2 linked regions of the Homo sapiens genome follow. The protein of the gene in region 1 interacts with the protein of each later gene in a pairwise test. Each region holds a gene or a part of one and is shown in the gene's direction. Other genes may lie near its edges. The genes, in order: ACSL5 and SLC7A14.

The links.
Region 2: the proteins of ACSL5 (region 1) and SLC7A14 interact in binary tests that used the Homo sapiens proteins (3 or more experiments, as listed by UniProt).

Annotation. Positions count from the first base shown.
Region 1 is NC_000010.11:112,372,513-112,376,426, forward strand, and holds the start of ACSL5 (long-chain-fatty-acid--CoA ligase 5), read left to right. Parts: upstream 1-1,603; 5' UTR 1,604-1,757; intron 1,758-2,755; exon of another isoform or gene 2,756-3,030; intron 3,031-3,692; exon of another isoform or gene 3,693-3,797; coding exon of another isoform or gene 3,798-3,914. UniProt on the Homo sapiens protein: Catalyzes the conversion of long-chain fatty acids to their active form acyl-CoAs for both synthesis of cellular lipids, and degradation via beta-oxidation.
Region 2 is NC_000003.12:170,460,162-170,464,075, reverse strand, and holds part of SLC7A14 (solute carrier family 7 member 14), read left to right. Parts: 3' UTR 1-3,914. UniProt on the Homo sapiens protein: Imports 4-aminobutanoate (GABA) into lysosomes. May act as a GABA sensor that regulates mTORC2-dependent INS signaling and gluconeogenesis. The transport mechanism and substrate selectivity remain to be elucidated.

The DNA of each region.
Region 1 (3,914 bases):
ACTGCAAAGGTCTGTAGCTTTACTCCTGAGCCAGCAAGACCACAAACCCACCAGAAGGAAGAAACTCTGAACACATCTGAACATCAGAAGGAACAAACTCTAGACACACCGCCTTTAAGAACTGTAACACTCACTGCGAGGGTCCGCGGCTTCATTCTGGTAGCTAAACATACACAGATCAATGGGGCAGCATAGGGGCCAAGGCACTGCAGGGGTTCTCATGACTCTGAGTCAGGTGCTGTCTTGACCGACTGGTTGTGTGATTCCAGAAGCCTTCTTTCACCTGAAAAGGCCTCACTGGCCTCACCTATACAGTAAGTTTGCACATCATCTCCAGGGTTTCTTTCATTTCTACCCACTGTTTTTGTTTAGTAATGATGCCTTGCAGTCCTAATGATCTTGGAATCAAGAATGGTGACTAGAGAACTTCAAAGTGGAAAGAGAGGCTGGGCATGGTGGCTCATGCCTATAATCCCAGCACTTCGGGAGGCCGAGGCAGGCAGATCACTTGAAGTCAGGAGTTCGAGACCAGCCTGGCCAACATGGTGAAACCCTGTCTCTGCTAAAAATACAAAAAAAAAAAAAAAAATTAGCCAGGCATTGTGGTGCATGCCTGTAATCCCAGCCACTCCAGAGGCTGAGGCAGGAGAATTGCTTGAACTCAGGAAGTGGAGGTTGCGGTGAGACTCCGTCTCAAAAAAAAAAAAAAAAAAAAAAAAGGAGAGAGTAGGATGGCTGAGCCATGACGCAGTAGCAATGCTTCTTTTTTTTTTTTTTTTTTTGAGACAGAGTCTCGCTGTGTCGCCCAGGCTGGAGTGCAGTGGCGCGATCTTGGCTCACTGCAAGCTCCACCTCCCGGGTTCACACCATTCTCCTGCCTCAGCCTCCCAAGTAGCTGGGACTACAGGGGCCCACCACCACGCCCGGCTAATTTTTTGTGTATTCAGTAGAGACGGGGTTTCACCGTGTTAGCCAGGAAGCAATGCTTCCTATTCTAGCGCCTTGCTAAACTATGTGTGCTGCAGACTGTGTTCGTGATTCCGAATCCTAAAAACAACCGTCCTAGGCTTGTCTCTCAGCCTAGACTCTAGACTGATTTGGCTCATTTGGTTGTCTTGGAGACGTTCTAATTCTGAAGGGGGCAGTGGTCCCTTCTAGAAGATAGCTGGTCTGCAAATGCACACCTCTGCTTAGTCTGAATCCTAAAGTTATAGCTTGAGCCAATTAAAGTGGCTTCTCATTTTTCTCTCACTCTGATCTCAAGGAGCCCTTTTTCTTCTAGTAATCTAGACCTTCCTCTTCCTATCACAGTCTCAAGGATTGTGCCCCCAAAGCAGATGCAAAGCCCTGTCTACCCCTTCTCCTTCCCCTGAGGTAGAGCTTTATCGAAGGTTTCTCTTGGTAAACGTTAGCTTTCTGAACTAAGGGCCGTCTTTTTTTTTTTTCCCGCTTAAGCCCATTGCATAACAATCTCTTGTTTTAATCTTTTGCCCAACACTGCTTTTCTTACTGTCAGAGGTTACTACAAGTGTTTGAACAGGTAACTTCTACCTTTGAACTTCTGTTGTGACAGATTCAAAGGTTCCAGGGGAGTGTGTTGGCCACTCTCAGGACAGTACACAGTAGCTTCGGGTGTGTCCCAGTCAGTCCTAGGAGCTGTGGAAAGAGTAGAAGTGCCTGAATGTGGTGCTGAATCAATACAGCCAGCTGTGAGGGGAGCACTTCCTGGACCCAGGAAGGGAGAGTCTTCTTCCAAGGTAAGCTGCAATGATACTACCTGCACTATATTGAATATATCTGTGAGATAGTAGGGAGGGGATTGGTGTGGGGAAAGAAAGTGGGATTTGTTATGCTCAACCTAAGGCTCTTTAATAACATGAAATTACATTTAGTTGAATAGTAATCTCAGCTGACTTGTGTGGGAGGCAAAGAAAAAAATCAGTTGGAAAAGGGGTGGAGATATATGAGCTATCCAAATGCTAGCAGGGGATGGAATTGGAAGGGAACACTGATTTTGGTAAGTGTACTAAAGCACACCAAGCCAGAATGTGGGTCTCCTTCATCTTCCATTAAGAAATTTCTGTCTCAGTGTAGTTAGAAGGATCGTGCGTCAGCTGCTGAGGGCAGAGAGTCCCATTTGGCAGACAGAGAGGAAGGGAATCAGCAGATATTCGATTAGGTGCTGGGGACTGTTCTGGGTAGATTATGTATGTTACTTCATTGGTGTATCTCATCCTATAAAGCAGGTGGTATCCTTCCCATTTCACAGAGGCATAGTGCGTCTCCAGGCTGTTAAACAGCATGGCCTAAGCTACATAGCTCCAAGGTGGTGTGGCTAGAATTTGAGACTTGATTGGTCAGTTTCCACAGCCTGCCCAATAATGCAGAATTGTTGTGGGTTGCCAAAGCTTTCAGTTACCCCCTGAAATCCTGAGGGTGTCACTCATGTGCACAGAGGATTGATAGGAATACAACTCTGATGGGCCTTTAGAATGACTCAACCTTCCTGAACTTGAGCATTTTTACTGGAGGAGGTCAATAAAAAAAAAAGAAATAAAACCTCATCTTCCCCTGGCCCTGAGCCCTTTGGTGAAGGAAGACAGCACCCGGTGAAGGGCTCAGAGGTATTAGTGTGGCTGAGATTCGACACCCACTCTGCCATCCTCTGCTCTCCTCTAGAGGAAGTTGCCTCTTGGGGAGCTGAGTTCCTGAAACTAAGCAAATGACAAGTGCTCCTCCAGCCGTGAGATGAGCCAGAGGATGGAATGCCACAGGCCCCACTTCGTCTCCCAGCCCTTCATCTTTCTTCCATGTCCAAAGGCGGCTCCCCAGAGGCCAAGGGCTCAGCTCTTGTGTTCTCTGAGACTGTGGCACAGCTCACCCTGGCTTCCTTAGTAGGAAGCTTTTAAGAACTGCTCTGTAGAAAGAACAAACCCTAATCTAGCTCCAGCAAAGAGCCAGGATCATGCTGAACTTCCTGTGAGCCTTCGTGGGGGATCGAGGCTGGAGAAAGTGCTGCTTCATTCTGAGGTATCTGTGAGGTGGGGAAGGGGCAGGAAAATTTGTCATTTCGGCTTCCTAATCTGAGAATGGTAGCTCCAGGGCCCCCCTGTAGCCACAGCCTTAGGCGGATCAAAAATGAGACTAATACAGGTCCTGGTAATACTGGGGGTGACCAAGGCGAAAGAATCGATTTTTAAGTTAAGTTTTGAGGTGTGACTGTATCAGAGGGAAAGAAACCATGCCAATTGAACGACTCACAGCCCTGTCGTTCCTGACTTGCTTATTTTCTTGGCTTTGCCAGAACTTCTTCAGAGACCAAGGCAGGCAGCTCTGGCGACTGGAGAGAGGCGGGGTAGAAGGTGTTTGTGTGGGTCTGAGGGCTGAGGTACCCTCTAGCCAGACTTTCCTGTCCTCCGAATCCAGCAGGGAACAGCGTCACCTCTGCCTCTGTGAGGCTTCTGATCTGAGGGGGCACCTCAAGTCATTTTAGTTTGTTTGTTTTCATCTTAGTTGAAAGATGATAGGCCACAGGAGGGCAGGGTCAACTGTGTTGAGGCAAGCTGGCTTTTGTGTCGGCCCTTAGGGGCTGAGGTGAAAGGCTTTGACACGGAGCCAGGGTAGCTTTGGCAGCTTCTCCCCTCCTGGTCAGAACACTTCCACTTTCAGTTGTGAAAAAAAAAATTAAAACCAGGAAGTGAAGTCCCCGAGCACGTTAGAAAGCCTGACATGGCCTGACTCGGGACAGCTCAGAGCAGGGCAGAACTGGGGACACTCTGGGCCGGCCTTCTGCCTGCATGGACGCTCTGAAGCCACCCTGTCTCTGGAGGAACCACGAGCGAGGGAAGAAGGACAGGGACTCGTGTGGCAGGAAGAACTCAGAGCCGGGAAGCCCCCATTCACTAGAAGCACTG
Region 2 (3,914 bases), on another chromosome or scaffold:
AGACGTATATTTAGTACATAAATGCAGAACCCTGACATGCTTTACTAAATTTGCCAATGAGTGACACCATGAAAAATAATAGAATTAGTGGTAATGACAAGAAGAAGTACTTCTGCATGATAAGAACAAATCTTTCCCCATGCAGGTAGAGGTTTGAAATAGCATAGATCATTAAAATCCACAGGTAAGCTTCAAACCTAGATTTTGCTAGCTACATGTGCCTGGCATATAGTGTGTATTCAAGAAATACCTGATGATTGACAGAATGAATGAATTGGAGGAAAATGAAATATTTATTCAACAATTACTTGTGGAGTGCCTATTATGTACTATGGCAGATATTGATATCGTAAGTCAGATAAAAATCCAGCTCTTAAGAAGTAGAGGAAATAGAGCTTGGTGTGGTGGCATGTGCCTATGATCCCAGATAGTTGAGAGACTGAGGGAGGAGGATCACTTGAGCCCAGGAGTTCAAGGCTGCAGTGAGCTATGATCACACCACTGTACTCCAGCCTGGGTAACAGAAGAATACCCTGTCTCTTAAAAAGGAAAATCAAATAGGGGAAATGGGATATATAAATAAAGAACAATAGTGAATGTGTCAGGTGAGATGACGGACTTGTAATGTGCTGTGGGGGGTCAAATATGAAGAAGGCCTTCTTCCTCTGGAAAGGTCATAAAGAATGTCACACTTGTGTTGGAACTTGTGAAGTGGGTAGAATTTTATCAAGTAGAAATGAGAGAAAGGCATGCCAAGCAAAGGATCGGCATGAATAAGGTCTACTAGTTTGTGGTCCTCTGGCTAAGAATTTGTGCTGTGCCTCCATTAAGAGAAAGCAAGGAGCTAGTTTGCCTGGAGCACATGATTTATGCATGACTTATACATGCAACAATAAGAAATAATGCTAGGAAGGCAGGTGAGGGATCACTCACAGAGAGACTTGAATGTCACACTGAGCTGACTGGCTTTCCTCGGGTGAGAGAGTGGGAAATAATTGGGGAACTGACGAAAGTGTGAATCCAGGAAGGCTGAACTTTAAGAAAGCTGAGACGGTGGCTTCCTTACCTATGCAAGGAACTAACAAGCCACATATACACTCCAAATTGATTTAACAAATTAAAGAGAAAAATAGCTGTACTTTGAGTCCTGTGTCTGCATTCATCATTAACCTAAGAAAATACAGCCATTTAATACGTGGACAAGCAACACAATTTAACAGCCACTTTAAAGTTTTCAACAATAGGTTTCAACAACTAAACCTAACAACTTTTTATATCTATCTAATCTAAACAGTAAAATCTCAGCTCCAGGTTTTACTGAGCTTGAGTGCTACTTTTTTTTTTTTAGACAGAGTCTCATTCTGTCACCCAGGCTGGAGTGCAGTGGCATGATCTTGGCTCACTGCAACCTTCACCTCCCGGGTTCAAGCTATTCTCCTGCCTCAGCCTCCCAAGCAGCTGGGATTATAGGCGTGTGCCAGTTCTACTTCTTAGTAACAAACTAGTAGCTAATCAAATGCCTACATAATGGTCATGATAAATCTGTTTAAATAAATGGCGGGCGGAAGGGAGTTGTTGAATTTAACAATCCATCCTTCTTCAGAATCTATAGGTCAGCCAGAATATAAATCTAGTAATTATTGAAAAACAAAACACAAACTCCTTCAAAGAAATCTCTCTCCTCTATTCTGCTGAAAAGGGTTGGTAAACCTGACATCCTTTCTTTTATTGGAAGACAAATCCAACATTTGTTAGACATCCAACATTTGTTGGAAGTCTACCTTACAAGAAACCACCTCTTATCTGCAACATAAACAGAAGCTACATCAGGTTGAAAATCCACATAGAAGACTGGAGAAAATTGCCGTCCCCTTTCGCACTAGGTTTTACCAGGGGCCCAAGATGTCAGAGGAAAGTCCGCGGAGGGCCAAACACAGGTTTACCTAATTATGAATCTCAGATTAGAATGTCTTATTGTGTGGAAAAGTCAGAACTCAGGAAATGTGTCTGAAGCCAGAGCGGGGGTCTGCTTACGGAGTCTACGCAGCGGGTAGGGGTCCACTATTGGAGTATAAACCTCAGGTCAGTGAGTAGTGCAGAGGTGTCCCTAACTTCCAATGGAGGGAAAGAGAGGAGAGCAAAGGAAACACATCCAGAAGTCGCCACGAGGGCTGTGTGCCAGCGCTCCATTTTCATGCTGTTTGGAACAAGACGTGTCAAGGAAGATGTTTCTATCCAAAGTCTTCATGGAGCCTCTGCTTCCCCTGTACCTGTGTAGCTCCCTGAAACTGAGGACCCACGTGTCTGCAAAGACCTCTGGAGATCCTAAGAGAGAGAGGCACCAGCAGGTAACCAGTGGTGGCCTGGCCACGAAAGAGTATTTGAAATTCAACAGTGAGCAAGTGCAGAAACAGCATCCCAAACCGCAGGCCCCACCACACGCAGGAACCAGAAAGCTGAAGTTTCACCAAGGAGTTTACTTAGTATTTCTCGCTGGGAATGGGGATGGGTAGCAAAAAGCCCCTTTCATGTACATAATGGTTGGTCCTATGTCCTACTTTTATTTTCTCTAAGAGTTTTAGAAGAAAGGCTGTTTTAATTTTTTTTTCTCCTTAAGAGCAACTTCCTTTTTAAAATGCTTTCCTCTTCTTGTCCTGCTTGAGTAATGCAGGCATCATTCTGAAATCATTCTGAAACAGCTAGGCAGTCGCCTTTTGCCAAAATTACTTCTCTAAGAAAATAGAGTGTTCTTTTTTTTAGGACTTAGAACCCACAAGGGGTGAGTGGAAGTTTTGTAGCCCATCAAAGGTGAATATGTGTTCTGCAGTATCAACTAAAACAGTGTACAAAATCATTAAACTGGGCCGGGCGCAGTGGCTCATGCCTGTAATCCCAGCACTTTGGGAGGCCGAGGCGGGTGGATCACCTGAGGCCAGGAGTTCAAGACCAGCCTGACCAACATGGAGAAACCCCATCTCTACTAAAAATACAAAATTAGCCAGGTGTGGTGTTGCATGCCTGTAATCCCAGCTATTAGGGAGGCTGAGGCAGGAGAATCGCTTGAACCCGGGAGGCAGAGGTTGCAGTGAGTCGAGATCACACCATTGCACTCCAGCCTGGGCAATAAGAGCAAAACTCCGTCTCAAAAATAATAATAATAATAATTTAACTGTGTTCTGCACACACAGAATTACAAAATCCCTATAGGACTTTCACAGATAGCTTTGGGCTTAAGGTCTTCGGACAACAGGTAGTTCTAATTTCTTACTCTTTGGGACATTTAGTACATGTTGGTACACATAAGGAAAGAAAATGGCTTATATTAGAGCTAGGAAACAGGGGCAGCCTGGATTTTTATGGTAGGAACTCACTCTGTGCTTTTTTTTTTTTCTGTTAAGTTTTCTTGACACTGACTTCGGTAACATTGGCTAAAGGGAATTGTGAGTCATGTGAATTTCACCTGCAGTGCAGACTTTAAAGGACTGTGTTCATTCTGATTTGGGGATGAAGAGAATGTTCCATGCACATCTATTGATTGGTCTTGGCAGTTGCTGATACGCTTGTCTCATTCACACTCCCAAAGGCGAGGATTTACCCTAGAAATCATAAACCCCCACTTTCCAAAGCAAAGATGCTGTTAATGTTATGATGGTGCATAAATACCTCAACTGTCTGGGCTGAGAGAGGGGGCTGCAGGTTTTTAAGAGAGCAGCTATAGTCCTCATTCCATGTAGTCACATCATCTGATGACAGGACTCCACATTCTAGCTTTTCTCACTGTGGAAAAGAAACGTTACTGTTTAATTAATATCCAAAGTTATAAATACAGCTTGTAAATTTTACTAACTTGTTTCTTTTTCGTTTCGTCCTTGAGAAGTACAACTTGCATTTACAGATGGTAATTCCTAGTGTTG